Linked DNA regions of Homo sapiens: all the other regions are reported to be linked to region 1. Evidence: microRNA targets listed by miRTarBase, many of them from high-throughput screens and not tested one by one. Region 1 holds a microRNA gene; each other region holds the end of a gene's coding sequence.

Region 1 (4,234 bases):
CCTATCCAGCTCATCCTCTGGAGGCTGGCTCAGGGGCACCTGGAAGGTGGGAATCGGGCTCGGTCCTACTCTAGCTCCTGATGCTGTAATACCAGGGCCCTCAGCCGCCAGGCCATGGCCTGTTAGGAACTGGGCCACACAGCAGGAGCTGAGCAATGGGCAAGCAAAGCTTCATCTGTATTTACAGCTGCTCCCCATCACTTGCATTACCGCCTGAGCTCCACCTCCTGTCAGATCAGCAGCGGCGTTAGATTCTCATAGGAGCATGAACCCTATTGTGAACTGTGTGTTCGAAGGATGTAGGTTGCAAGCTCCTTATGAGAATCTAATGCCTGATGATCTGTCACTGTCTCCCATCACCCCCAGATGGGACTGTCCAGTTGCAGGAAAACAAGCTCAGGGCTCCCACTGATCCTACATGATGGTGAATTGTATAATTGTTTCGGTATATATTACATTGTAATATACATTGTAATATATACCGAAACAATTATATATACTATATATTCTATTATTATTATAACAGAAATAAAGTGCACAATGAATGTAATGTGCTTGAATCATCCTGAAACCATCCCCCTCCCACCCCCTCCCATCCCCCTCCCCAGTCCATGGAAAAATTGTTTTCCCCAAAACTGGTCCCTGGTGCCAAAAAGATTGGGGACTGCTATAATGTCTCTGAAGGTGGCCAGGCAGTTCCAGCTAGAAAGCTCATCTGAGAACATCTCAGCCCAGGGGCCCGTAGGCAGTTCTTTTTTTTTTTTTTTTTTTTTTTTGAGACAGAGTTTTGCTCTTGTTGCCCAGGTTGGAGAGCAGTGGTGCGATCTCGGCTCACCGCAACCTCCACCTCCCAGGTTCAAGTGATTCTCCTGCCTCAACCTCCCGAGTAGCTGGGATTACAGGCATGTGCCACCATGCCTGGCTAATTTTGTATTTTTAGTAGAGACGAGGTTTCTCCATGTTGGTCAGTGTGGTCTCGAACTCGTGACCTCAGGTGATCCACCCACCTCAGCCTCCCAAAGTGCTGGGATTACAGGCATGAGCCACCGCGCTCAGCCCCAATGGGCAGTTCTATCCTGCTCCCCCGCACTGCCCTGCCCTTACCTATTCCACGTCCCAGACCTCTGACTCTGCTCCAAAACCAGCCCCTTGGCCAGGCGCGGTGGCTCAGGCCTGCAATCCCAGCACTTTGGGAGGCTGAGGCAGGCGGATCACCTGAGGTCGGGAGTTCGAGACCAGCCTGGCCAACAAACTGGGGTTTTAGTGAAACCCCGTCTGTACTAAAAATACAAAAATTAACCAAGCGTGGCAGCGTGTGCCTGTAATCCAGTTATTCAGGAGGCTGAGGCAGGAGAATCACTTGAACCCGGGAGGCAGAGGTTGCAGTGAGCCAAGATGGCACCACTGCACCCCAGCCTGGGCAAACAAGAGCAAAACTCTGTCTCAAAAAACAAAAAAGCCCCCTAAAACACCACCAGCCACCCCACCCAGTCGGTGTCCCATTGTCTGTAGGGCCTGAAATCCCAGTTCCCCAGGGCTCACCTGGGGCCCGTGCTCGCCTCCTCTTCCTCTTCCTGCAGGGCCAGAGACCCCAGCAGCTTCCTCTTTGGCCCCTGGCCCTGGCTCTCTCTGGCTCCTATAGCCAGGCCCCCAGACTTCACCTCGGCCTGGGAGAGGAAAGTGGGGGCCCGGGAGGGGCCCAGAGGCCTGAGAGGCTCCCCGCCTGGGTGGGCCGCAGCCCCTCACTGGCTGTGCCACCTTCACTTGCACGGGGAAGGCTGGGCCAGCCGGGGTGCTGGCGGTAGTGTAAGAGGCTGGAGTGGGGCCCCCATAGGGAGACGCTGGGAGCGGCGAGGCTGGATTTGGCTTCAGGGAGCCCGTGCGGTAGGCAGGAGGTGGCGGGGGCTCATATGCCTGAGGAGAAACGCAGGCCAGAAGTCGTAAGCAAGGACCCCACTCCAAGACCCACATTTGTGGAAATGACCCTGGCTGTGGGGAAGCACAGGCTTTTTGCATTTGACAAGGTCCCGTCCTCAAGTGGCTGACATGTTGGTACTTGCAGCCACGCTTCCTCCATGCTGGGGTGCACATTACACACATGGGGGATCGATCAGGCTGGGTCTGAGAGTCCAGAGAAGGGGGCAGGGTGCTGACGGGGAGGAGGGGCAGAGTCACCTGTCGGTCTGGTCGCCGTGACGCATGACCCCGACCCCCATTCAGCTCGGCCAGCGTGCTGCTCAGCAAGTCTATCTCGGCGTCCAGGCTTCCAGGGCGAAGGCCCCCCCTGTCTGCAGGGAGCCCCTGAGGATGGAGCCAGGGCAGGAAGAATGCAAATCACCATAGGCCTTCTCCTGTCCTGGGTCCCTCAGACTCGGTTCTGGGGGATCCCACATGTCCCACCCCACGATCCCGGGTCTCACCTGCGTGTGCTGGAGTACTCCATGGGACCCCACCCACGCCGGCCCCCGATCCTCCGGTCCCCCTGGGGCCTGGTAACACTGCTCAGATGGAAGGGGGCAAAAATTGACCCTGGGGTGGGGCTGGAGTGCTGGGTTGAGGGAAGAGAAATCAAAGGTGGGGTGGCGGAGGACAGGAGGGGTGTATATTTGAGGAGCCACCCTCTCCGCCTCTCGTTACCTCCTCCCCCAAATCTAGGGTCCCAAGAGAGCGCAGGCGGCTGTTCCCCCCGCCTCGGCTTGGGGAAGGGGCAGGAGGAAGCAGCCAGGGCGGGAGGCTGGAGCGGTAGGACAGAGGTGAGCGCCACAGCTGGGTGGCTCTTCTGTCTCACAAGGGCTGCCTTACCTGCTCCGTGGGCCGGTGGTGGCCCCGGGGTGCCGCGGGGGATCGCCCTCCCCTGAGGGGCTCTGGCGGGCTCCGGCTGCTTCGGGGGCAGCCAGGTGGGCCCCGACATGGCCTGGAAAGGGGGACTCCAGACAGCGGTCTTGAAGCCCCGAGCCTCTGGCCTTCACCCCCTCTTCCGTCCCGCACCTCGTTTGGGACTCCAGAAAAGAAAACTTTTTCTGGCTTTTTTTTTTCCTCTTCCTCCCTAATTTTGGGGACGACCACGCCTCCGATGACGTCACCACATTCCTGGGGGAGGGTCACGTGGCCCCCTAGGCCCTAAACTGCCATTTCTCCCTGAGTCAGCCCCCTCCTGCCGAGAGGGGAGGGCTCTCCGGGGGATCCCGAGTCACTGGGGGTTGCGGGCAGCTGGGGATGGGAGGTGCGGGCCCGAGCCAGCCTCCAAGTCCACGGATGCGTCCGGGCCCCGCACCCCAGCCCTGCACGTGGCAGCCTCGCGGCGGGAGGCTGAAGGCTCCGATCTCCACCCCTCTGCAGAGCTCTCCATTCCCACCCCCTCCCTCTCAGCTACCCACCAGCACTGCTCAGCCAGCCTGTAGTGTTTTGGTCTTTTATTCATGGTCAGCAGAGTTAGAAAAATAAAACAGAACGAAAACATCACCACCCCAGTGGGCCGGTGAGTCTGGCCAAAATGGGGAAACTGAGGTAGCCCAGAGTCACAGAGGAGGCCTGGCCCCTAGCATCAAGGCACCAGTGAAGGGAGGCTGCGGACTCCCTCCCCTGCACGGTGGGGACAGCCACCCAGAGTTAGTGTGCTGGGGTCCCTCTGCCAAAGGAGGTGGGCGTGATGCCCAAGCCCAGGATCCCCTTCAAACCTCCCCTGGGCTCCACGTCCCAAGGGCAGGGCCACGGGCCACAGTGGCCTCCTCTTCCTCCTCCTCCAAGGATCAGGATAGGCCGCCTGCCTGGGCCCTCTCTACCTAGCCCTGGAGGCAGGGGCATCACAGATCAGTGCAGGTGACTGGAGTGACCCCATGAACCAGCAGCGTGGGGCCCAGGTCTCGGGTTAGAGTCTCCAGTAGCGCCAGGTAGCGGGGGTATCGGGCGGGATCGGCTGGCGGCCGAGGCAAGTACAGGAAGGTGAGGGCTGTGATGGGGCCCTCAGCATCCCCACCCTCCGGCCCACCCGGCCCTCCTCCTGTGCCGCGCCCCTGCTGGGCCCGAACCAGGGCGTTGGCGCTGCGTGCCAGGGCCTCTGCCTCTGCGTCTCCCCGCCCACTGTTCACAAAGTCCCCTTCCTCCTCCGCCTCGGGTTCCCCAGCCCCGGCCCCCTCGCCCCACACCACCTCCTGCACCTCAGCCCGGATCCTCAGTTGGCTCAGCAGTGCCCGCAGCCGCCCCTCGGCCGCCCCAGGCGCCTCCCGAGGCCCCA
Region 2 (4,234 bases), not on the chromosome of region 1:
ACAAATGTCTTGTGTTTCTTCTGCTTCGTGACCCCGTAAACACTTTACCTGAATTTTTCCTATATTCCACAGCTAAGACCACTGCCCTATTCTATTAATCAAATTGAGTTTTCCTGGAAGGAAAGGCAAAGCAGCTATTCAGTTTAAAATTTTCTACATCTTTTTACAACACGAAGAAGTAACACTACAGAAATATTCAATCTCTTTCCATCTTATTCATAACTTACAGTGGTCCCCAAATATTAAGTCTATAAATACTTAACATTAAAGGAGACAGACTTGAGGTTGTCCCTTCTCTGTGGCTTTTAATTCCACAGTTTCATCTAAGCAAACTAGCATGTAAAGAAGAAATCCTTTGAAGCTATGGATAAAATTGGTAACGACAGCTCAATCCAGGTTACAGACCTACTCAGGGCAATTTATTTGTGGTCATGATTATTTAGAATGATCAGACATAGCCACAATTTTCCCTTAATCCCCAGCTAATTTTTGTTTAACCACACCAATGAAGAAAGAGGAAAAATTTCAGTCACTCAAATTCCTCTGTGGAATGCATTCTGGAACATTTAGATGGGGGTGTATTTATCATTTGGGCAATTCATAATACTTCATACAAAGTAATAAAGTCACACTGACAGCCTGATCCTGAAGGCAAGATTAAACTGCCTGCTCACCTTCCCCAATTTTCATCCCCACATTTCTCTAACCTGTGCTCCTTCCAAGGTATAGATAGTATCACTGCTCAGGACATTTTTCTGGTCACAAATTTTTTTTAGGTTGTCATGCCTCCTCTTGTCACAGATACAGGTAATAAGATGTTTTTTATTTAAAATGTTTTCCTTTTTCTGTTTAATGAGGCAAGGTTTCCCTGATCTGCAAAACAAAAGTAAGTTCAAAGAAAACCCTTGTTTCCCTTTTGATGTGTGCTTATGAGTAATAGTGTGGTGATTATGTTATAGACAGAATACATGCTCTTTATACGGTCGAGAGGAAAGATGACTACTTTAGGCAGAAACTCCCAGTAAGATCATGTCTATATTTGCTATTAGGTACCAGGCTGGACAAAAAGAGAAGAAAAAAGGGGAAGGACAATGAGGTAATTAAAAAATGAAATTGAGAACCAGGCAAAAAAGAATGAAAAGGAGGTATCAAAAAAAGTGTTGGATTTTAGGAAGCAGTGGAGTGCCATTCATCATACTCCATGTCGTATTGCACTCAATTTATAAAACATTTTCACACTATGGCCTTTCCCATTAAGGCCCCAAATTTCCTTCCTGCTATTCCAGATACTGCTCAGCAAACTGTTCTACAAAAGAAATTTTTACTGAACAAAGATTATCAGGAAAATCCCACCTTACAGGAAAGAGTAAAATATTAAGAGTCTACCTGATTCAGCTTTTCATTCAATTAAGGTTTATAGGAATGTGTACATAGGAGTGGTTTCAGCTCCAACACGATTCCAGGAGCAAGTGCTAAACTTTGATAGGAAATAAGTGATTGTAGTGAATAACCCAAGCAGCACTCCTATAAAGGTACAAAGAAATCTTATGGAAAATCTAATGAAACTGATAAACTATTGTTTCTGCCATATTTACCATAAACCTTTAGTGGTAAAAAAGTTGAAAGTAGTTGTAAATCTCCTTCATCAGCAACTAATGCTACCAAAAAAGAAGTGAGGCAGAAATGTAAAGGTTTTAAAGAAGATTTTTAAACAACTCTTGAAATATTTTACTCAAGTAGTTTTTTTCTTAAAAGTTTTTAAAAATTATTTTTCAGAGTTCATAGCTACTGATAAAGGTATTTTCTTAATTATGGAAAGCCTTTTTTTCAGCTATCACAAATGAAATTACATCTTTTCATTAAATATAAACACACAAAAAATAAATTTACAAATAACCAAAAAATTTTATATTTTCCTACCTTGAACACATTTCTTCAAAGGGTTAGCTTGAAAAATACATGTCTAAGATTACAGAATATTCAATAGTTACTTTTAGGGTTTTAACATTATTTTAGATTTTACCACAGAGTTTACCAAAAAAATAACAACAAAAAAACCTGCTAAACATCAAATACCACTTGTCCACTGGGAACAATTCAGCTTTCTATCAGTTGAGTTGGTTAGATCACATTAAGTTGTTATGTATAGGTATTGACCAGAAGCCTACAATGAGATACAGATTTTACACTAAGATTGAAAAAATTTATGGTACCAGCTCTTTTTCTCTTAACTTTCTACACTAAGAGAAAAATACATTACTTGGCCTACATCTTAAAGCATTCAAAATAGGCCCTCTGTAAGTTTTTAACAAATTGTATTTGTATTTAGGTCTTTAAGAAACAACCTGAGATGATGGTAAGTGTCTCATTCCTCATTTGACAAATGAGGACAAATCACTCCTTGAGAACTAAGGTCATTTCAATCCATAGCACCCCTGACCTAGTGCCATGATTCAAATTCACAACTCTTGATAGCTAAGACTTTGACTGCTCCAACTAGCAAATCACATATAGCCATTCCCTAACTTTGTGTTTCCCAAATCTAGCTGTGAATCAGAATTACCACAGGATGCCTTAGCCCTACCCTTGATCTACTGAAGCAGAAAATTACTGCCTTAATTCTGTGTGATACAGGTCAGCCTGCCTTTTAATATTTGGATATCTAAAGTGAGAGCATAAATGATGAAGAGACCAGTTTATAGGACTATTTCTCACACCGTCATGTAAAGTTGGTATGTGTCTTTGCTCCATTAAAGTATTTCTGACCTCAATCTTAAACTTTGCTTTGTCAAACAAAATCATGCTGATTTCAAATCCAATTAGAAAATAAGTATGTACAGTAAAAAGTAAACTTGGGCTTCAATTAATGAAACTTTAACAGAAACATGGCTAGAGAGGAATCTCCTCCTATAAGAGAAAAAAATGATTCACAACAACTGCCTACTAAATACAACTGGAAGTGCCTTTCCCTATTTTGTAAAATCGAATGAAAAACCCACAAAACACATCCACAGCAATACAGGTGAGGCAAGGGTCTATATTCCTTTCTATTACAGGTGGGGTCTTTTATATGTCTCAAACCTGAACAAAATACAGGTAACAATCTAAATTCAATCATGACAATAAAATACTTTCCATTTTCCAAGTCTGATGGTAATAAATATTTACATTTTAAAAAATAATTTTTGTTCTTTTTTTTGTTTTTTAAAAAGACACAACATGCTCAAGGGTACACAGAATATGGAAAAAGTCATCACTTCATTTGAGAGATCAACTGGTAATAAAAAACAATGTTCTTACATATTAACCAATTCAAGAGTGGTATCACCAGGGAGTCTAACATGGTGTTTACTTCAAAGATGATATTCAAGTATGTTATTTGGAACACTATTTCTAATGTATCTATAAAGAAGCAAGCACTGCTATCTAATTTTTATAGTTTTTAGTATCTTCTATATCCACCTCCTCCACCACCACCACCACCACCACCACCACCTCCTCCATATGGATCTCCATAGCCTCTTCCACCATAGCCCCCTCTTCCACCATAACCCCCTCTTCCACCATAATCTCCCCTGCCTTGGAAACCTCCTCTACCACCTCCTCCTCCTCCCCCCCACCCTCCTCCCCCTCCCCCACCACCTCCCCAACCTCCTCCTCCACCCCCCCAGCCACCTCTCCCACCCCCACCCCCACCACCTCCTCTACCACCACCTCCACCACCACCACCCCAACCACCCCTTCCACCGCCGCCTTCTTGTCTCTTTTGCCAAGGGGGCATTTCTGGAGGTGGTGGTTCAATTTCATTCGGCCGGCCTCCCCTGTCAGGCACCCTTCCCATCAGCACCTGTGTGAAGAAACATTTTCTTTTAGTTCCTAATATTTCAAAAAAGTTTACATAAAAGTTTCAAGTGATGTTGTTTCTAATAAACAGAAGCCAATATTTAAGGACATGAAAGTACCAGACATGGCAGAACAAATTAATATTAAAAATATTAAGTGTGGAAGGATAAGGAGAAATCTGTTAAAGGATACAAAATCACGGCTAGACAGAAGTAATAAATTCTAGTGTTCTATACCATTGTATGATGACTGTAGTTAATATATAGTTTCAAATAGCTACAAGGAGGATATTGAATGTTTCCAACACAAAGAGATGATAAATGTTTGAGAGGGATATGCCAATCACCCCGTCTGATCACTATACATTGTATGTATCAAAACATCACTATGT
Region 3 (4,234 bases), not on the chromosome of region 1:
ATGGAAACTTCCTTCTTCCCCTCCCTCCTGTTATATGGAAAGGGATGAATGCTTTGCTAGTGCTATATCATCTGACTGCAATGCTTATAATATTTTGGGGATCCTGGGCCTCCTTGAGAACATTAAGGGATGAATGTACGTATGCACAGCCTCACACTCTATAAATGTATGTGTCCTGAATTTCAGAGCTTAATAATGAATTATGGAACTTGATAATGATTGGATCAGGCAGACAACACCTGATCAGTCCTAATATCAGAAAAGAGACAAGTAGACATTATGTGCTTCCTGAGGTGAGGCAGTAGTAAGGAAACAACATCACACATGTAGCAGTCTTGGGAAAAAAAATGTAACCTGTATCTCGTAATGAGGAAACAATCAGTAAAAAAGTCTAGATTGTGGGACATTCCACAAACTTGCCTGAACTCTTTAATAATGTCAGTGTCATGAAAGACACACCACACACACACACACTGCACATCATACACAAACACCACCCCACCACCCACCACTCAGACACACACAAAAGGGCAACTCTAATCAATTAAAGGAAACAAAAGAGAATGACAACTACATATAACGTATAATTCTTGATTGGATCCTGGATTTAAAAATAAACAGCTATAAAGGATATTTTGGGGACAACTGGAGAATTTTGAATATGGATCATATATTAGATTTATGCAGTATCAGTGTTCAGTTTCATGGGCGTGAAAATATTGCAGATTTATAGGACAATGCTCTTATTAAAAGAAAGAATATGATGAAGTATTTTACATTTTCATGATGTCTGCAACTTATTTTCAGAAGGTTCAAGAATAAGAATGTGTATTTACAGTGAGAAAGAAAATGTGAGGCAGGTGCGGTGGTACATGCCATAGTCCTGGCTACTCAGGAGGCTAAGGTTGAAGCTCACTTGAGGCAAGGGGTTCAAGGCCAGCTTGGGTAAAATAGGGAGAGACCCCTTCTCTTAAAAAAAAAAAAGGAAGAAAAGAAAACAAGGCAAAACATTAACAACTGATGCACTAAAGGACATAAGGGTACTCACTATAATCTTTCAACTTTGAAACTTTTACTTTAAAATTTCCCAAAATTAAAATGAAAGCAGAAAAAGAAGGAGAGTAGGACAGGTTAGGAAGAAGAAGGAGGGTTGTCAGTCTCTGACCCAGAGGGCTGAAGCTCCATTTATAACAGAGATGAACAGTTAGATGCAGTCAAGCAGAGGAGATAAAAATTGACTGCAGAGATTTTCTTCAGAATGTGCCAAAGTTCTGTGGGAACAGGAATATTCTGTGATTAAAAAAAAAAAAAGGGTAGTTTGCCAGAATTTACCCTAGAAGAGTTCATTAGTGCAATTAACAATATAAGCAGGAGGAAATTCTTCCAAGAAGCTTAAAAAGATTTGGATTTTTAAATTGAGTGGAAATTTCATATGCACAGTTAATAAAAAATAACCTTAAAAAGAATGAATAACAAAGGTCTCCAGATTCCAGCCTCCTGCTCGATTATGCACTGCTGAAATGCAGGAACATATTCAACTTTTTAATGTAAAAATCCTGTGGCGTTCCATGATGCACAGCTACAGAGTTCCTCCAGGGCATGGGCTCCGTAGTTACCTCTCTGTGCCACTGTGCTGCATTCCCATCTGGTAACTGTGTATTGCAGAGGCTGGGACTTAGGGGCTCTTGTTTCTGTTCTCTGGATCTCTGTGATGGTCAGATATTCTTTTGGCCAAAAGAGATGTAGGGAAAAAACTTTGCCTATCTTGTCCTCTCAAAGTTACTTAGGAAGGGGGACAAAAGTATGTTTATTGTTGACCAGGGCACAGCAACATGGTGAGGTAGCAGCAATTGGATTCCGTGAGATGACCTTTACGAGACACAAAGCAAGGTTCAGGCTGCTTGGTTAGGTCAACAGAGAATGCCACTGTACCCACAGAGACAGCCCTTTCTTAGCTTGGACAAAGATTTCATGATTCTAGTCTTTTGTGGCAGCCACAGAGGGCTTTAACACATTATGATTGATAAAACAAAATCAGAGTCATTTAGTTATTCTTTAATCATTATTACTTTAAAATACACTAATACATTCTTATCTACTTCCCTCCACCGACAAATATTTTGCTAAATTAAAAGGATCACTGGAAGTATTATGACCCCCCTCGTCACAGGTGGTCAGAACCACCACAGTTTTGTGAATGAATCAGAGAAGGCAACATTTCATCAACGAAAACTCATTTAGGTTTCAAAAGGCAGGATGTAGTACAGAATGCATTATTCTGACTGTCTTCTGGAATAGAAAAATTGGAAAGGATGAAAGAAGGAAGTTAGCTCCAGCTCCACTGTTACCTTGGCAACCGTGGCCCAATCACAGGGGCAGAAATTAATTTTGTGCCGTAACATAACGTGGCAGAGGAGTGGGGAGCGTGGAGTGGGGAGAGAATGACGGCTGGGTTTAAATGCTCAGAAGGCTAGTGGGGAGGGTTACAAGTCAGCCGTCTGGGTGTTAAATCTACACGTACCAAATAACCAATTGTACTTTTTTCACTGAAATGTTAGTATTATGTAGAGACAGCCACGACTCCCTGTCTTTAATAAAGAACAAACACTGCAGTAATCATGCCCAACGCTCCCGCTGATCATTCTTAGTTATTTAGGACTTTTATTTCTCTCTTCTGGGAAACAGGAAAGAATATCTTCCACTGAAGAGACAAGGAATGATGGTGGTTATAAAAAATACATTCTGATCAGGTGAACTGGTAACTTGTCAGCTTTACGCTAGTAACCAGTCTCTTCCCTGCAGTTAGAACGTGAAGACCCTGTTTGGGGCAGAGACAAGCCACCCCATGGAGTGTCCCTGATAAAACTATTTATTAGGGAAATGCTATGGACGCCTCGGCAGGGAGAGTAGGGAGGTGCAGGGGATGGGTAGGGGTTCAGGTGTCTCAGAGCTCCACAGCCCTGCACAGTGTTAAACCACAGATCAGAGCAGGAGCTTTTAGAGACCTGAAAGGAAGGCTTATTGCATAAAAACTTGCTGCACATCCAGAGGTCCAAAATTCACCCGGCACTTAAAAAACCAATCACAGAGAAGTCGGCCAGCTGACAAGACAGATAAGTGGAAAAATACGAACACGCATCTCAGTCTCAAAACCTGAATTCCAGTAAAGCTTAGGCGGCAGGTCACAGGCAGAACTGTGCCATGTGTGGAAGTGCAGAGGCTTCCTCGTGGACAATTCCCCAGCCAGAACGGTCAAGGGGCTGGTCCTTCTTTCACGTTGTGGTCTGCCTCGTCCACAGGTCTGGGCTAGCAGCACTCAGAAGGTTAAGAGCACACAAAGTGAGTGGGGAATGTCTCTCAGGAGTCACTGCTTGCCTCCACCTCTGCTGTTCCTGGGAGTAGGTGTGTCATTTCAGCCAGGGTGGTCCACCTCCTGCCCGCTCAGGGCACCAGGAGGAAACAGCTTTCCTTTCTTCCAAAGGGTGAGGTGGAGCATTAGTGACACATCCTGCTCGTCATTTCTTTCTGGAAAGCAAGGGGAAAAGGATGGTTAGGAGAAACTATAAGCAGAGCAACGATTTGGTGAAGGATCCTGAAAATGCTCTTGGAATCTCGAGAGCCTGTAAATGAAAGCTTGCAAGCATGGTCCATGAATAAGGCTTAGCATGAGGGTATGTTCCATCTGTTTGTTCTGCAGAATTTTTTTTTTCCATTAAGGCACTGTTTAAAAATTTGACTCATGTATCAAAATTCAGGTTGCTTGCTTGCTTTTTCTGAGAAATTGCAAGATTTGGAGCTTCTGAACAACTGGAGTTGAAGAATGGCTGTCCTCTTCAGCAGAAGAATTTGCTCTCCAGTTTGCCCCAGTCCTTGCCACTCCCACCTGACTTCCCAGCAGGAGCCATGTAGCACTTATGAACTGATACAGTAATTGGATTTGGACTGCTAGTTTTCTTCGAGTAGGGAAAGATTTAAGTTTCAATCAAAGATGGAAAAATAAAGGATAAGTGGGTATAAGTCAAGAAAAGCAGGAAGGAGGACATTTTTAAAAATAGAAATGAATAATACACCAAAGTGTCTGACATGCGTCACCTGCCTGGCTCTTGTGGGTATTTATAGATCCCGAATAGCCATCCTTTCTCTACCCCTGGGGCTCCGCACAGGTTGAGTCCCATGCCTATGGTCCGCTGCTACCACATCCTGCGCCTGCCCCTCTTCATTTGTCAAATTGCCA
Region 4 (4,234 bases), not on the chromosome of region 1:
CTATGTAGAAAGGCTGAGGCAACTGGGAAAGACCTGACAGCTAGTTACATATATTCTGACATAGTCCCCCCATAATGGCTTTTAGTGACACATGTGCTGATAGAATTCTAAACCTCTAGAATTCCCCTGCTGGTGATGCTGGTGTCTTCTTTTGTGCTTGACTGTACAGGGTAAACTGATGCAGAATGCTGCAAGTGTGATGAGAGCTAGAACGCTGTGAAAACTCTTGCTAGGAAGGTTGGGCTCGGTGTGACTTGCTCCAGTAGGAATCCTGGGTAGAGATTTTTAGCTGCAATTAAACGGTACATCCAGAGCCAAGGGTGACTCTCAACTCAGGTAGTTCTACAGGTCAGGTGTGAATTTACCAAATCTCCCAATTTGTTTATTTGTTTTGTTTTGTTTTGTTTTTTTAGAGGAGGGTCTCGTTCTGTCACTCTGGCTGGAGTGCAGTGATCACAGCTCACTGCAGCCTCAAACTCCTGGGTTCAAACAATCATCCCACCTCAGCCTCCCAAAATACTGGGATTACAGACATGAGCCATTGTATTTAGCCAAATCTCCCAATTTAGAAACTCCTCTGTAAAGGGTTTGGGTCTGAGCTATATGTTTGGTCTTTTTTGTTTGTTTTGTTTTGAGACGGGGTCCCACTCTCTTGCTCAGGCTGGAGTGCAGTGTCACAATCTTGGCTCACTGCAACCTCCACCTCCCGGGCTCAAGTGATCCTCCCACCTCAGCCTCCTGAATAGCTGGGACTACAGGGGCACACCACCATGCCCAGCTAATTTTTCTGGGGGTGGGGTGGGGACTTTCTATAGAGACAGGGTCTTGCCATGTTGCTCAGACTGGTCTTGAACTCCTGAGCTCAAGCAATCTACCTGCCTTGGCCTCCCAGAGTGCTGGGATTACAGGCATGAGCCAAAGCACCCAGCCCTGAGCTGTATGGTACTTCAAACTGCCAACACGCCAGCCCCGGACACTCTGATTGGTATTCTTTTAATTCATCAGACTCCATGTGCAATAAATGACTGAGTGTTGAAACTGTTCTTTTTTGTTTGCCCAGTCGGTAGATGGCCACTTTTTGTAACTTTTTTTTTCATTCAGGTTTCTATTTTTATTCAACTATAAGCAAACAGCACAATTAATGCAATGTTCAGCAACTCCAGACCAGCTTTTCTTACTCCCGTGAAGAATGATCAGTTTAACAAACACCGATCTAAGGTTTCCTCCCAAGCTGTCAGCGAGCGCTGCTGCCGGTCTAGATGGCCATGTCCCAACAACAGCAGCGCCACTCTCCCTCCTGCTTCTTCCAGGATTGCTCTTTAAAGGGACCAGAGCGACATACTGATGCCTATTGAGGCATCTGAGATGCACCGTGTTGGGGGTTAGCCTCAATGCCAGCCTCTGGTTGTCTAGGTGAGTGACATCACCATAAAAACACATTGTGTACCATTCTGGACTCAGGATCACAAAGGCAGAGGCAACCAATCTTTTTTTTTTTAAAACCTTCCTTAAAGATTCTTTGATGCTTTGCTCTATCACTGTAGACCTGGTTTTTTCCCCCTAGTTTTTTCTTTTTTACATTCTGGGTTGCTATTTTCAGATTAACAATTTGATGACCCCATCACAGTACCAAAATATCCCCCAAAATGAAGTTCAAATTTGATCAAAACATAAATCAGAGTGAGTGAGTAAAATTATAAAGGCCAGGCAGCAGGAAAAGTCACCCTCAACCACCATCTGACTGGTCAGGTCTCACCTGTGCCAAGGGGGGCAGGAAGAGGAGAAACCTATTATACATGCAACACTGAACTGGGGAACATGGCTTGGGGCCTCCAGAACAGTTCAGGTCCCCAAGCTAACCCACTAGTTCCCAGAGAGTTGCTCGTACAGTTTGGGCACATAGTCGTCCCACTCAGCCTGGTAACACGTGCCAGCCACCGGGGCCCCGAGCTCGTACTTTTTACGGAAGGACACCACCTCAAATTTGCCACGGTGGTCTCCAGATCGGTTGCTGAGGATGGGCTCGTCACACTTTAGTGGCCTGTCCTGCTCATAAACCAGCCAGACATAGCGGTGGAGACCTGTGCCCTTGGGAGGCCCCGAGCCCACATAATCGGAGAGGAGTGTGTCACTGCTGATGTCATTGCCCTTCATGTTGACCACCAGGAAATGATGCCATTCTCTGTATTTGGGATCCTTCCTGCTGGGAGCATCAGGGTCTGTCAGGACCAAGGTGTAGAGCTTCCCTGAATCAAGACCATCCCACTAAATGCTGGTGGGTCTATTCTTAACCTGGGTGGGCGTCAGCACTTTGCCCAGCTCGTCCACCACCGCCCGGGCGTAGGTGACATGCAGCAGGTGCTGTGACCGCTCGTCCATTTCTCGCAGGCTCAAGGGCCCGGACCACTTGCTGAGGTCCACCGGCATGGCAAGGCCAAGCAGAGCATGCAGCCGGGAGTGCCGCGGTAGGCCAGGTGCGGGCGGCAACAGCGACATGGAGAGCTCAGCACACTGGCCTGGGAAGGCGCAGACCCCACTTTTTGTAACTTTATAATTACTTAATTTTATTTTTTTAAAGCTTATTTTGGTGTTATTCAGTATATAGTGTTTTACTGAGCTTCTGCAAATGCCATCACAATAATAGTTTTGTTTTCTTGAACAAAAAACCAAAATAAATTTCAAATGTTAAAGCAATGGAATCAATAAATTTATTAATGTTACATTAACACGAACTACAAAGAGACCTTTCGTATGTCTGATACCAAAGACATAACTGAAAAGTCATTTTTCCAAACCTTGAGCTTGCATTCACCTACCTGTCTAACCCTCACATGTGCTAATTAACTGCAAATGCCATTTCTGGGCTTCACACACATTCCGTGGCTTTCCCTTTTCTGATGTGACTTCCCTCCCTTACCCCACACCTCCCTGCACTGTCCCCTGCTGTGCCCTTGGCTGGAATGCCCTGCAGCCTGCTTCAGCCCAGCAAAGTATTCATCTTACCAGTCCATGCCCTGACTCCTGATGTCACCCTTCCCTGCATCACCCTTCCCTGTGTATTTGGTGGATAAGGCTTGATTGAGGCTCAGGTACTGAGTCCCTGCTGGCACATTGAGAACCAGCTGCCACCCCGATGATAAGGAAGACAGACCCGGGACTTCCATATGAATTGGATATGATCATCTGACATGCACCCTACTAACTGATGGATCCTGCTGTTACCCCAAAGCTCCAGAACCACACTGGCCAGACACAGGCATTTCCTGTCCCCTGAAGAGCCACTGAACCCAGCACAAAAGAGATCTAGAGCTCTCCAAACCTATGGAATGGCAACCAAAACCACGCCCAGGTTTTGAGTTAAGCCTCATTAGTCTCCCTTTTCCCTTGACAGTGTAGAACTGTGCAGCGTAGCACTAAATGAATGAGAGCAGAAGCCTCAGGACAGAACTGAACCCACCAGGTTGAGCTGACAACACTGCCAGGGGTTCTATCCACAGATGGAATATTCGCTTTGATCACTGAGTTAGGAGGCATGGGTGAGGGATGCAGAGCGCCGCTCGTCATGAGACATCAAGCTATCCAAGTCAATATCCTATTAGTAGGGATGGCATGTTATAAAAGGCGTAAAGATCTCACCTGCCCCAGCTGGAAGCAGTGATTCCATTGCCCCAGATTCGGAATTGTGATTTAAACTAGGCCTCTCTTCAGGCATCAGAACCAAATTAGAGTGCTTTATACGTGCAAGGAACTAATGCAGAAAGACATTATGGGTAAGTCAAGGGAGATGCCCCAGCCATTGGGCAAATTCCTCTGACTCCTCCCTGATGGAACTAATTCTTTTTCTTCTGTGCCCGGATCCTAGAATCAAGATTCTTAAGGTCTGAGTACAAGTTCCGCTTCAGGATGGCGCTGCTGCACAGCAGGGCACCTTGCAGGGCCCCGACCAGTCCACAGGTGAAGATATCCTGGCCTAGGAGGCAAGAGCAGAGGCCCCTGAGCGTGCACCCAGGCAGGCCCAGGGGAGGGTGGGGCCTTGGTGCTCTTCCCTCCACATGAGGGCCACCCAGAGCTGGCTCCAATCAGACAGGGGCCACAGCCTGCCCAGGCAGCCCTGCTCAGGGGATGGGAGGCTGCAGGGGACAGCAGGGCCTGAGGGCAGGAACAGAGGACGTTGGGCGACAGGGGCCCAGGGTCTCAGGTCCTGACAACATGGGGCAGTGAGTATACCTGTCAG
Region 5 (4,234 bases), not on the chromosome of region 1:
CCTGCAATACTATATTAACATTTACGGGGTGTGGAGCTATGTATTGTTTCTATTTTAGTTTTTAAACTTGCAAAATTCATGATAAAGAGTCATCGCTGTGACCTTGGAGACTGACAATCTTCTATATGTTTTTTTGCAGATTGTTAAAGAGACATGAAAATAACTTATCAGTGCTAGCCATTAGTAACATGGAAGCTTCCTCCACCCTTGCCAAATGCCTTTATGAACTTAATTTTACAGTTCAGAGTAAGGAACAAGAAAAAGACTCAGAAATGCTGCAGTGAAAAATAATTCCACTTACACAGTGGGGGACTCAAAGTCAGCCACATTTCACATACTGTTACTGAAGAAAGCACCAAGTCTTAATGGAACAAAGACCATAGAATGAATTATTTTATCTCCTCCCATGATGCTGAGAGGAAGCTTCGTATTCTGATCTCTGAGTGAATCCCTTTGTTCTCTGTTTAAAAAAATCTAAAAAGAAAAAGGAAAAAAAAAAAAGAACTGCTGTGGGATTGTCAACCAGCTTATCTGCAGGATGTTTCAGATCTGATAAATCCTGATGGAAACTGGTATGATCAGAATTCAGTACCATCCACATTGGAATATACATGGAATATTGTAAAACCTACATGAGCAGATGAAATAGAAGCATTAAATATTTTTATCTATATCCAAAAAGGAGCACATTTTTATATTTACAAAACCGTTTAAGCTGGTTTGAATAATTTAAAAAAGTTTCAGCACACCTATACCCCCGATCTCAGAGGGGGCCACCAATATCTAGCTATGGATCGTGTGTTTTGTTTAGAAATCAGTAGCTTGGTTTTCTTACTTGAGCCAATATATTTTCACTTATTTATTATCATAAAAATTTACCAGTCTGAATAGATCTTGTAAATATTTGTGAATAGAATGAATACCTTTCATGCCACTGCAGCCACTGGAAATACATTCTGTGGTGTCCTAGAAGCATTATTGGTAGGTTCTAAAGTTTTCTAGACTTTCCTGTCAATTGTAAGTAATTGTGATATATTCTATGCAGTGGATGAATGTTCTTTAAATTTGTGTAAATACTTCTGCAAAGGTACTGATGCTGTAAAGTCAAAACAGTTTTGTGGAACTGTGATTTTTTTTTCTTTTTTCTTTTTTTTTTTCTTTTTTTTTTTGTATTATACACCTTGTAGAACTCATTTTGCTGGCTGAAAGAGTATGGAATAATATATCTCATGTCATTTTTTAGAAGAAAAACTATTTGAAGGTATTTTTTGGTTTTCCTTAACATGTATCCACTGTAAACGTTTGTCGTGTACAAGCTCAGAGCTTGGACAGAATTTTTTGTATTTGTAAATTGGTTTAAATACATGGAATTTTATACAGGTTTTCTCCTGTGTTATATATGCATTATGTGCAGGTATGATATTTTCTTCACTACTTTTTCTATCTTAATATAGTGTGGAATTTTATTGTATTATTCTTCCATTCTTAATACTGTACCACATTCCTGCTCAGAAACTGCTCACTTCCTTAAATTGTCTTTTTTCCCCCAGCGTGAAATGTATCCATTTATAACTGCCTATTGCCTGTTCTATTAGCATCCAAAAATGTGGAAGGCCTCCCAACCACCATTTCTGCTGTGTCCTTAGGATGTGCAGTAAAAAATATAGACCTAACAGTTTATGTTATAGAATGGCTTTATTTACTTTGGTGACTGTTTATAGTTTTTAAATAAAAGACTGAACATTTTCTTGAGTCCTTCATTTCTGAGTATGCTTAAGACATCTTAAAAATATAGAGAGAATTCTAAATTCAGCTGAAGGCAAGGTATAACGGTCACCTACCTATTTGATTATATGTTGATTGATAACATATTAAATAGAGAACAAATAAGAGAGGTCCTTTACATGACAAATTTGCATGAAATAAGCAGATTAACCAAGTATTTATTTTTCATCTTGTTATAATGCAGAGCAAATGTAGAGAACAGCAAATGATTGATGCAGTTAAAGCTCAATATGCCTTTTTTTACTGGATACTGTACATTTGGCTAAAAGCTTTTATTGTTTGATGTTGTGTTTCTTGACTGTTTATTCAGAATCACAGTGTATCCAAATCTTCAGCTTGAATTTGGAGGCAGATTCTTAGAGTGAAAAAGCCTCAGTTTCCATATTAAAAATGTTTTAAATATTTTGATTGAATTAGTACCAATGTAAAATCTAGTTTCTTCCTGAAGGAGGATCCCTGGCGCTGTCCTGCCATGTCTCAAAGGAATGTTTGAGAAACTTCATCTAATATTAGTTATAAGGTTGTGGAATTTATGCTTGGCCCACCTTCCAAGACTGGCACTGCCCAACAGACACCGCTGAAATCATGTGGGTATCCCTAGGATGGCCTTCAGAGCCCTCAAACTTACAAGCACCTGGTAGTTGACATCATATGGGGAATTTTCTATTCACCGTACTTATCCAAAAATCTCTTTTAAAAAGTAAATTTGTGCAACAACGTTTATTTGAAAGATAATGTCTTCTCAAAATCAGAAACTGCAGTGGTAATTAAATTAATAGAAAAGAGAACAAACTGCAGGTTTAGAAAAATGGTTTTCATATTCACCATTCTTCCACCTCATTGAATTGCATGCTGTAGTTCTAGCTTTTCTGCTATAATATGTAAATATGACTGTAGCCTTTTAAGCTTCAGTCTCAGCAGAGAATTTCCTAAATGCGTTTGACCTAATGAAACTGATCATGGCTTCCCACTTAGGTTTTTCTTCTTATAGCTTTATAGAACTATATAATAATATGGACTTGCTGTGTAATGGAATTAAAGTGCTTTTGCACAATAAGTTCTGCAAAACCCTCTCATTCATGAAAAGGTGCTCCTTGCTAGACAGAAACTTGCTGATTTACAGTATTGTTATTTTTGTCTAAAGTTCTGTAAATACATGCTTTAATGTTATCTTTGAGAAATCTATGTAAATAATATAGTCTACAACATAGAGACTGTATAATTCTGTGTTATATATGTGCCTAGTGCTCTGTTGGCACTCAATAAATTTTAAGTAACAAAATTGATAATCATATAGCGAAGGCATATTTTTCTTCCAAGCTCAAGTCAGGATTGTGACTATATATTAATGAGACTCAGTAATCCAACCCACACCTGAGAACTCGTCTCATTACTTTATAGTCATGTCATGTATGTTTTTTTAACCATGAAATGACAATAAAATGATTTTTAAAATGAGAATGTTTTGGATAAGTGACTTCTGTCCTGATCTTAACCACTGCTGTTAAATACCAAACAGAGGAAACATGATGCAAAGCAGAAGCTGCTAAAGAGCAGAAGTGGAGCTATGGGGTTAACCACGTGGGACACCTGGCACTGTCACTGTTACCAAATAGTAAGTTAAATGAGAACAAAATCCAGTATCTATTAGGAAATTTTAGCCGATCACTTTCATACTGCTTGACTCTTCTCAGACTCATACAGCAGTCAGTCATACGACAACTACACTAGCCTTCTCCAGAGGCAACAAAACAAATGAAGACAGTACCACTGTCTAATTACATTACTACACTGGTATTTGTAACTCTTTCATTTCAATTATATAGCCTCATTTCCTATTGGTAAAAATTAAGTCCAGGATTGCCTTGTGTGTGGATAAGAAACACTAAGACACACTGGCATATACTTAAGTAGATCCATTTACTTTGATTAATAAGACTACATTTAAATATTAAAAGAAAAGGCTATTATTAAGTCAAGTCCTGGCTCCTGTGGATTTTAGTCTGAGATACAACCCACATTGTATACATTTATTTAAAACATAAACTGCCTTTAGAAAGTAACTTAATCAAAAAGTTAAATTATATGAAAAGCCTCATTCCCATCTGCTTCACCACCCGTGTCCCCCAACCAGATAACCACTGTTCACATTTCTTGAGTACATCTCTGGTGTTGATTACATACAAGTGAATTCAATATTTTCTCTTTTTTACACAAAAATATGTCATACCATAAATAATATGCCGTACTTTCTTGAAATTTTAATATTTTAAGTTTATTCCATATTGGTACATAGCTTTCTCATCCTTCTTACAGCTATACAATATAGTTTTCCATTGTATGGGTATACTATATTTAACTAGACCCCATATCGATGGACATTTAAATTGTTTCCAAAATTTAAGGTGCTGTTTTAAACTAGTCACTAATACTTTGCTGAACACTACTC
Region 6 (4,234 bases), not on the chromosome of region 1:
ATCTGTGTGCTGCCCACCCACATGTGATTTAGCATCCAGAATGGGAGAGAATGGGTTTTGCTGCACTGGGAAAGTGGTTCTCTCCTGCTGTCTGCTTCTGTGCCCTTCACATAGTCCTGATGAGGGGGTCAGGGTCAATGATAATGGAGCTGAAGATGCCACATTGCCTTCCTGCAGCCAAACCAAGTGAGGGAAGAGGGGGGTGTGATTTGGAACCCTGTTCACTTGTAACTCTCAGGGCCTCAGAGGGCCTGGGAACTATGCAAAAGGAACAGGGTATCACAGACAAATGCCCTACCTGAGGTTCTCATCTCTTGGCCCCATCTCTTTCAGGTGGTGGAGGAGTCATCCTTCCTGACCCTGGACATGCTGGAGTCCTGTTTCCCTTATGTCCTGCTTCGAAATGCCTATCGGGAGGTGTCTCGGGCCTTCCACCTAAACTGAATGCCTGCCAGTACCCACTGAAGAGCCCTTTGGACCTTCCTAAACCCTTGCCATAGTGGAAGCTGTGGTCACTTTCGCAGGGGGTGGGAATGGGGTGGGGTCACTAAGGAGAGAGGGTCAGGAGCCAGAGTTGATGAGCAGATCTGTGGAAGAACAATCCAGGGCTGAGAAATCGTAGAGCAGTGAGGCAGGCTGGGAGCATGGAGGACAGCTTATGGAAAAAGTTAGGGCGTGGGGCCACATGTGTGAATTTTACAATGAAAAAAGGAGTAACGTACAAGTATATTTTCTATCTTCTGGTGACTTGAGCTTGAGCTCTGACAGGCATGGGCCTCTCCGACCTTCATCACTATTCTTAGGATAATGCTGGCGGGCAGAGATGATCAATCATCATATTAAATCATAATGAGCTTATAATCCTCCCACTGGAGCTGCTATTGTCTCCTGCACATTCATTAGGACCATTATCTTCTCTCTTCCTTTTTCAAATGTGTTCAGCAAACATTCAACCTGCTCCTACTGCAGAGTAGCAGCAAAGGAGCCCCTCTTTTCCTTTGTGGGGCTCTTCGAGGGGTCATTGGGTCTCTTCCTTTGCCCCCAGCTTGACTGCGTTTCCTACTGGGGCAAGGAGGAAGTGCCCTTCAGAGATGTTCACTGCCCACCTACTCTACTACATTGTTTGTTACAAGTTCTCTCTTGCTTTAACCCCTCCTGCTTTGATATCTCCACAACCCAGAGCAGAGGGTCAGTTAGTCTCCGTCAATTCTAGGTTACATGACAACTGATTGGCCCAGACTTAGGTGGGTTTTCCCTCCTGTACCATTTGGGGGTACTCTGCCTTTTATTGGGAGGGACTAATTTAACCCCAAATCCTTTTGTCAGCCTGGGTATAGCTGTTGCTCCAGGAAGGGATTTCTCTTCTGGATCTTAAATTTCACAGACCTCATTAGGTTGTATGGCCCTGAGAGTGGGTATCCTTGAGGGAGTACAAGCTGTTTCAACTTAGCCCTTTTCTGCGCTAATTAGAATTTCAAGCGTCACAGAGCCTGGGGGCTTTCAAGATAGCACTAAACTAGGTTTACTTAACTCCTTGGCAGGAAATAGTGGCCCCCATGCATCACTTCTGTGAATCCACTGCCAGGGAGAAGTGGAGAAACAGATCATATATGTCACAGGTCTAGAGTGGTTGGAATTGACAAATATAATTAGCTAGTTGGTTAATTAGGGTCATGTCCATACTTTCATGATGAAAGGGAAGCAGTTGTCGGTTTTCAGCAAAAACGATTCAGCCTTCCTGAAGCCTATTTGATAGCTGTTTTGGGGTTTTGTACATGTGTTTGCTTTTTATTTCTTGAGACCCAGGCTTAGTCAATACTTTCTTAACTTGGCACCCATAATCAACATACAGATTTTTCTTAGCAACAGTTGTCTGCTCTTTAGGGTGGAAGCGATAGAGAATCCTGCTTCGTGCATCAGCAAATCCTCCTTCCTTGCTATGGGAAGGGCTTATGTTCTAAAGGGTGATTCAGTGTCAGGCTTATGAGACTGAGAGTAAAGTTGATGAGGAAGAGGAGGCTCAGAAGTATCTGAACAACTACTCTATATGTTTATATTTTTCTGCTTGAGGGGATAGAGATCCCTCCTCCATCTGCATCTGCATATAGAACTGCTTAAGAGGACAGCAAGACAAGTTGCTGCAGGGGGATGGAGGGTAGACAGAATGCCTTTTTTTAAAACTGAAAATTTTATTGAGATACTTAATCCACCTGCACTTGTAAGAAATCATACAGAGAAATTCTATTTTCCTTTACACAGTTTCCCTGAATGCTAACATCTAGCAAAACTGTAGTACACTGCCACAACCAGGATAACTGACATTGATATAATCTACTGATCTTGTTCAGATTTCCTTCCCCAGTTTTGCTTATGTTCATTTCTCTCTGTGTGTGCACGTGTGTGTGTTATCTATTTCTATACAGCTTTATCATGTGTAGGTTTGTGTATCTGCCACTGCAGTCAACATACAGAACAGGCCGGGCGCAGTGGCTCACGCCTGTAATCCCAGCACTTTGGGAGGCCAAGGCAGGTGGATCACCTGAGGTCAGGGGTTTGAGAGCAGCCTGGCCAATATAGTGAAACACCGTCTCTACTAAAAATACCAAAACTAGCCGGGCGTGGTGGTGCATGCCTGTAGTCCCACTACTCAGGAGGCTGAGGCAGCAGAATAACTTGATCCCGGGAGGCGGAGGTTGCAGTAAGCTAAGATCCTGCCACAGCATTCCAGGCTGAGTGACAGAGCGAGACTCTGTCTCAAAAAATAAATAATAATTTAAAAAAAGATACAGAACAGTTCCATCACCACAAGGATCCCTCGCATTGCTCTTTTATAGCAATTTTATAGCAATTTTCTCCTCCCACAACCCCCTTCCCCATCTCTAGCTCCTGGTAACACAGATATATTCTCTATTTCTAAAATTTTGTCATTTGATATATCTTTTTGTAAACATATAATTATACACACATATTTCTCTACCACTTATACTTTTTCAAAGTGCTTTCACATCCTTATAGCAATTCTGCAAGGTAGCCAGGGAAGGCTTTCCTATTTCAGGTCAGAAAACAGATTTAGAAATATTAAATGACTTAATGAAGGTCACATGTTTAGCAGTAGAACTAGAACTGGGACCCAAGTCTGATGTTCAGTCCTAGACCTTTTCTACTTGCCCGGTCTGCCTCTTCACAAGGGAAGACTTGGGTTTTAGAATCCAGAGACCTTAGAAGGAGCAAATTGGAGAAGGTGAGGACATGATGGCCTTTACTACCGGAAGCAAAAAGTGAATGTCCAGAGGTGAAGGGACAGAGAAGTAACAGGACCCATCAGCATTTCAGGCAATTTGCTTCCTTTACCAGGAGGGTCTCTGTCCTCTTACAACCTGGGAAAAAATAAGTTGTGTCCCAGGTTGTAAGTTTGCTTTACTTAGGCCCAAAGGAACTAAAGAATGGATATCAGAAATCTCACCCCAATTGTTTTGTCTTACAGGCACAGAATAGGTTCTAGCCTCAGCATTTTCATTAATGTAGTGTTTTTATTAACATCTCCATTAACTTGCTTGCAGCAATGAGATGGAATTATGCCTCCCACAAGGCCTGGGGCAAGATACTTGCATAGGTGCCCCCTTTTGTTTGGACAGTAGAAACACTGCCTCCCCTGCCATGGTGTTCAATCCAGTTGGCAGGTGGGCCAGCTTCAAAGTGCAGAAGGAACTGGGTGTGGTGGCTCACCCCTGTAATCCCAGCACTTTGGGAGGCAGGCGGATCGCTTGAACTCAGGAGTTTGAGACCACTCTGGGCAACACAGTGAAACCCTGTCTCTCCAAAAATACAAAAAATTAGCTGGGCATGGTGGCTGTTGTCTGTAATCCCAACACTTTGGGAGGCTGAGGCCAGTGGATCTCTTGAGCTAAGGAGGTTAAGACCAGCCTGGTCAACATGGCGAACTCCGTCTCTACAAAAAAATACGAAAATTAGCTGGGCGTAGTAGTTCCTGCCTGTAGTCCTAGCTACTTGGAAGGCTGAGGTGGGGAGGATCGCTTGAGTCCGGGAGGCAGAGGTTGCAGTGAGCGAAGATGATGCCATTGCACTCCAGTCTGGGTGACAGAGCAAGATCCTGTCTCACAAAAAAAAAAAAAAAAAAAAATGCAGAAGGTCCAGGGCCTGGCCAAGGGGATGATGCCCTGTAGCACTTTGCTTTGCAGGAAGGGAACAACTGTGCTGTGAATACCAGGATCCA
Region 7 (4,234 bases), not on the chromosome of region 1:
GTCTCAAACTCCTGGGCTCAAGCGATCCTCTCACCTTGGCCTCCCAAAGCGTTGGGATTACAGGCGTGAGCCACCGCGCCCAGCCAATTCATTTTTTAAGGAAAGAACTTGGAGTTGGTCCCTTGCCTGTGGCAGAAGCTGTGGGAAAGGTGGCAGAGTCTTTGGCATCCACAGATTTCCTGTCATGTCTGAAGCTGGTCTCTGTGAAAGAGAAGAAGTGAGGGCCGGGTGCGGTGGCTCACGCCTGTAATCCCAGCACTTTGTGAGGCCGAGGTGGGCAGATCGCCTGAGGTCAGGAGTTCGAGAACAGCCCGGCTAACATGGTGAAACCCCGCCTCTACTAAAAATACAAAAATTAGCCGGGCGTGGTGGCACACGGGAGGTTGAGGCAGGAGAATCACTTGAACCTGGGAGGTGCAGGTTGCAGTGAGCTGAGATCACGCCACTGGACTCCAGCCTGGGTGACAGAGCAAAACTCTGTCTCCAAAAATAAAAATAAAAAAAATAAAAAAGAGAAGCAGTGAGAATCCCAGCCGCATGGATTCCCTGTTTCTCTTCAGTCTTAGATCCAGCTGCGTCTCCAGCCCTTTCTTCTGTTGCATTGCAGACCTCTATAGCCCTCCAAGAAATTTCCCTTTTGCCCAAGCAGAAGCTGGATTTCTGTACTTTACACAAAGAATTCTGATCAAAACCCAAGCAGAATTCTGCAAATATGTAATGTGTCATCTGTGCAAAAAGCAATGTGTTCTTCATTAATGAAAGTATTTATGCAGTCTGAATGCTGCCTGGAAAGGGTTTAAAAGAAGGAATTTCTGCTGAGGATGGTAGTCCCAAAATGATACAAATAGGAACAGTAGCAGCTGCCTCCATTTGAGTGCTTGCTACAAAATAGGTACTGTGGTAGTTTAGTGAGTTTAGTGGGGGAGCCAGTTTTGTTCCAGGTTAGACTTTAAAGTGTTTTTTTTTTTTTTTTTTTTTTTTTTTTTGAGACAGAGTCTCACTCTGTCTCCAGGCTGGAGTGCAGTGGTGCGATCTCGGCTCACTGCAATCTCCACCTCCCGGGTTCAAGCGATTCCCCTGCCTCAGCCTCCCAAGTAGCTGGGACTACCACCATGCCCGGCTAATTTTTTTGTATTTTAGTAGAGACGGGGTTTCACCATGTTGGCCAGGATGGTCTCGATCTCCTGACCTTGTGATCCACCCACCTCGGCCTCCCAAAGTGCTGGGATTACAGGCGTGAGCCACTGCGCCTGGCCGAAGTTCTTTTTTTTTTTTTTTTTGAGACGGAGTCTCGCTCTGTCGCCCAGGCTGGAGTGCAGTGGCACGATCTCGGCTCACTGCAAGCTCCGCCTCCCGGGTTCACGCCATTCTCCTGCCTCAGCCTCCCGAGCAGCTGGGACTACAGGCGCCCGCCACCACGCCCGGCTAATTTTTTGCATTTTTAGTAGAGACGGGGTTTCACCGTGTTAGCCAGGATGGTCTCGATCTCCTGACCTCGTGATCCGCCCGCCTCGGCCTCCCAAAGTGCTGGGATTACAGGTGTGAGCTACCATGCCCGGCCAAGACGCTACACAAAATTTAAAAATTAGCTCAGTGTGGGGCCTGGCGGGGTGGCTCACATCTGTAATCCCAGCACTTTGGGAGGCCGAGGCGAGTGGATTGAGGTCAGGAGTTTGAGGCTAGCCTGGCCAACATGGCGAAACCTCGTTGCTAATAAAAATACAAAAATTAGCCAGGCGTGGTGGCATGCACCTGTAATCCCAGCTCCTCGGGAGGCTGAGGCAGGAGAATCGCTTGAACCCGAGAGAAGGAGGTTGCAGTGAGCTAAGATGGTGCCAATGCACTCCAGCCTGGGCGACAAGAGCGAGACTTTCAAAAAAAAAAAAAAAATTAGCTGGGTATGGTGGTGCATGCATGTAATCCCAGCTACTTAGGAGGCTGAGGCTGGAAGATCACTTGAACTCAGCAGGTTGGGGCTGCAGTGAGCTGTCATCTCACCACTGCACTCCAGCCTTGGGGACAGAGCAAGACCATGTCTCAAATCCCGCCCCCCACAAAAAAAAAGCCCAGAAATTTAAAAAAATGACTGAAAAGAATAAAAACCCATCACTTATGAGCATATTTTTATTAAAATTATTTTTTTAAACAAAAAAAGTGAGACTAGCATTGTTTTTGTATTTTTGCTAATGTCTTTTACATCTGATTTAATAGAAGACACTGGATTCTTAAGTCGGTGTCTTCATTAGATATGCTGCTTTGGTTGAATATAAAGAAAAACTTTCACATAGACTTGCGGTTCATGAACCCCCTGAAAGGGTTTCAGGTACCCCCTTGTCAGGAATCCTCAGATGATACTTTGAGAACCACTGCAACAAACTATGTTGCTTCTCAGTTAAAAAGTCTATATTATTAACCATTGAATTAGTATTAGAACTGACAATTCTTTCCATCTCCCAAGATTTTTTTTTTTTTCTTTGAGACGGAGTTTCGCTCTTGTTGCCCAGGCTGGAGTGCAATGGCGCGATCTCGGCTGACTGCAACCTCCGCCTCCCAGGTTCAAGGGATTCTCCTCCTCAGCCTCCTGAGTAGCTCAGATTACAGGCGCACACCACCACGCCTGGCTAATTTTTTTATTTTTAGTAGAGACGGGGTTTCACCATGTTGGTCAGGCTGATCTCAAACTCCTCACCTTGTAATCGCCTGATTATAGGCATGAGCCACCATACCCAGCCAATATCAATTTTTAACTTGAGTTCTTAAATTGTCCCTTTGCCAGCCAAGATTATATATATCTTTATTTTTCTAAGCTAAGAAGAGAAAGCAACATGTCATACACCAGGCTTCCCTAACCCTTGAGCTGCGGAGTGGATGCCAGTCCATGGCCTGCTAGGAACCCGGCTGTACAGCAAGAGGTGAGCAGGGTGGTGACCGAGCATTACCGCCTGAGCTCTGCCTGTCACATCAGCGGCAGCGTTAGATTCTCATAGGAGCTTCAACCCTATTGGCGAACCGTGCATGTGAGGGATCTAGGTTGCGCGGTCCATCTACTGCCTCATGATCTCAGGTGGAACAGTTCCAAAACCATCCCCAAGCACACCCCCGCCCCACCCCCGGTCCATGGAAAAATCGTCTTCCATGAAACCAATCCCTGGTGGCAAAAAGGTTGGGGACTGCTGTCATACACAACCAAAGGTCACATTTGTATAGCGGTTTTACATTTTACAAAGCTTCTCTCTGTGCCCACATGATGCCACTTAGTCCTCAGAAGCCCACAGTACAGAGGAGGAAAGTTCAGAGTAGAGAGACAACTTGGCCAAGATTGCCATCAGTACCCAAGCTGTGGAACCAGGACTCAGAACTGGGTTTGATGACTGAATCCCACATTCTTCCCTCTTTCAGCTGCCCACTGCTGTCACACAGGAGAAAGAAGGGCTGACTGCTGTTTTCGGGAGCCGGTGATCCACACTCTGCCTTGAGCTGTTGGATTCCTCGTCACTAAGTGATGCGCTCAGAGGACAACCCTGCTCTGGCCCCGATGAACAAACATTTCACTTTCAAAAGCTGAGTTTTCAGCCTTGGAAGGGGAGACTCTTCATTTATGTTCACTTTGTTCACATACACAAGAGAGAGCATCCGTTCCAGAATCCAACTGGACTTTATTTGACACAGAATACAATATGGCTACAGAAACAGCAAACTGAAAAAACAAAGCAGAAAAAAACACAGTTCCATCCAATTTGTAATTAGGTAACAGCAGGGAAAGTCATTAAATGAATAACAAAACAATTAAGCTTGATGGAAGAAGTCTTTTCCTAGTGCCCATACCTGAAAGACAAAGTAAATTACTCTGATTAATTCCAAGATAATTTCCTGTTTGAGACATAAAACCTGCTTAAACACATAAGCAACTTTAGTTAGAACCTAAGTGATCACAGTGTGCTCCAGGATTAGGTGACGACACTGACACTAGCTTGGCTGTCGCTGTGATTCCCCTTTCCCCTCCCCATCTTACAGGACTTCTTGCCTACTGCCCCCTCTTAGGGACAGGCTCTCCCTCTGACTCAACCATGCCCACCTGACAGGTGCCAGTAGCTGCCTGGTGGTATTAGGGAGGTGAGAGGGAAAAGTCATTGGTGGTTGTGAAAGGGAGCTCCGCCTGCTCACTCCCAACAGGGGCTCAGACAGTTTGAACTTTCGGGCTGCCCTGATCATGGCGGCCTATTTTCACCTGAAC

What was found. Region 1 holds the annotated microRNA hsa-miR-6875-3p (AUUCUUCCUGCCCUGGCUCCAU, at 2,308-2,329, opposite strand). A microRNA usually pairs through its seed, bases 2 to 8, with sites in the 3' UTR of a target mRNA and lowers its output. Matches are read on the target gene's strand: a 7mer-m8 pairs with bases 2 to 8, a 7mer-A1 pairs with bases 2 to 7 and ends in A, and an 8mer does both.
Region 2: miRTarBase lists FAM98B as a target of hsa-miR-6875-3p. Seed matches in the 3' UTR shown: 7mer-A1 at 1,931-1,937.
Region 3: the mRNA of MOB3B is a reported target of hsa-miR-6875-3p. Seed matches in the 3' UTR shown: 8mer at 3,470-3,477, 7mer-m8 at 1,379-1,385, 7mer-A1 at 1,249-1,255 and 7mer-m8 at 13-19.
Region 4: miRTarBase lists RETSAT as a target of hsa-miR-6875-3p. The part of its 3' UTR that is shown has no 7-base or 8-base seed match.
Region 5: the mRNA of ARID2 is a reported target of hsa-miR-6875-3p. Seed matches in the 3' UTR shown: 7mer-A1 at 346-352 and 7mer-A1 at 1,243-1,249.
Region 6: the mRNA of NCKAP1L is a reported target of hsa-miR-6875-3p. Seed matches in the 3' UTR shown: 7mer-m8 at 592-598.
Region 7: miRTarBase lists RBX1 as a target of hsa-miR-6875-3p. Seed matches in the 3' UTR shown: 7mer-m8 at 3,384-3,390.

What each region holds. Positions count from the first base shown.
Region 1 is chr7:100,866,175-100,870,408 of GRCh38, reverse strand. It overlaps MIR6875 (microRNA 6875), which reads right to left and starts at 2,373; the gene lies at 2,302-2,373. It overlaps SLC12A9 (solute carrier family 12 member 9), which reads right to left. Exons shown (of 14, transcript NM_020246.4): 14 at 3,399-4,234. The coding sequence ends at 3,804. It overlaps TRIP6 (thyroid hormone receptor interactor 6), which reads right to left and starts at 3,022. Exons shown (of 9, transcript NM_003302.3): 1 at 2,803-3,022; 2 at 2,421-2,548; 3 at 2,176-2,301; 4 at 1,543-1,914; 5 at 1-39. The coding sequence starts at 2,911. RefSeq lists an enhancer at 2,235-2,334 and silencers at 2,775-2,924, 3,285-3,374.
Region 2 is chr15:38,483,868-38,488,101 of GRCh38, reverse strand. It overlaps FAM98B (family with sequence similarity 98 member B), which reads right to left. Exons shown (of 8, transcript NM_173611.4): 8 at 392-3,847. The coding sequence ends at 3,443. Among named protein-coding and RNA genes, the nearest start is that of FAM98B, 32 kb to the right of the region's middle.
Region 3 is chr9:27,327,092-27,331,325 of GRCh38, forward strand. MOB3B (MOB kinase activator 3B) reads right to left here. Exons shown (of 4, transcript NM_024761.5): 4 at 1-3,525. The coding sequence ends at 3,496. Among named protein-coding and RNA genes, the nearest start is that of EQTN, 32 kb to the left of the region's middle.
Region 4 is chr2:85,339,412-85,343,645 of GRCh38, forward strand. It overlaps RETSAT (retinol saturase), which reads right to left. Exons shown (of 11, transcript NM_017750.4): 10 at 4,228-4,234; 11 at 2,544-3,970. The coding sequence ends at 3,831. It also overlaps the pseudogene PEBP1P2. Among named protein-coding and RNA genes, the nearest start is that of RETSAT, 13 kb to the right of the region's middle.
Region 5 is chr12:45,904,795-45,909,028 of GRCh38, forward strand. ARID2 (AT-rich interaction domain 2) reads left to right here. Exons shown (of 21, transcript NM_152641.4): 21 at 140-3,243. The coding sequence ends at 284. Among named protein-coding and RNA genes, the nearest start is that of SCAF11, 84 kb to the right of the region's middle.
Region 6 is chr12:54,542,242-54,546,475 of GRCh38, forward strand. NCKAP1L (NCK associated protein 1 like) reads left to right here. Exons shown (of 31, transcript NM_005337.5): 31 at 334-4,234. The coding sequence ends at 444. Among named protein-coding and RNA genes, the nearest start is that of PDE1B, 5.2 kb to the right of the region's middle. RefSeq lists an enhancer at 4,218-4,234.
Region 7 is chr22:40,972,067-40,976,300 of GRCh38, reverse strand. It overlaps RBX1 (ring-box 1), which reads right to left. Exons shown (of 5, transcript NM_014248.4): 5 at 2,992-3,825. The coding sequence ends at 3,813. Among named protein-coding and RNA genes, the nearest start is that of RBX1, 23 kb to the right of the region's middle.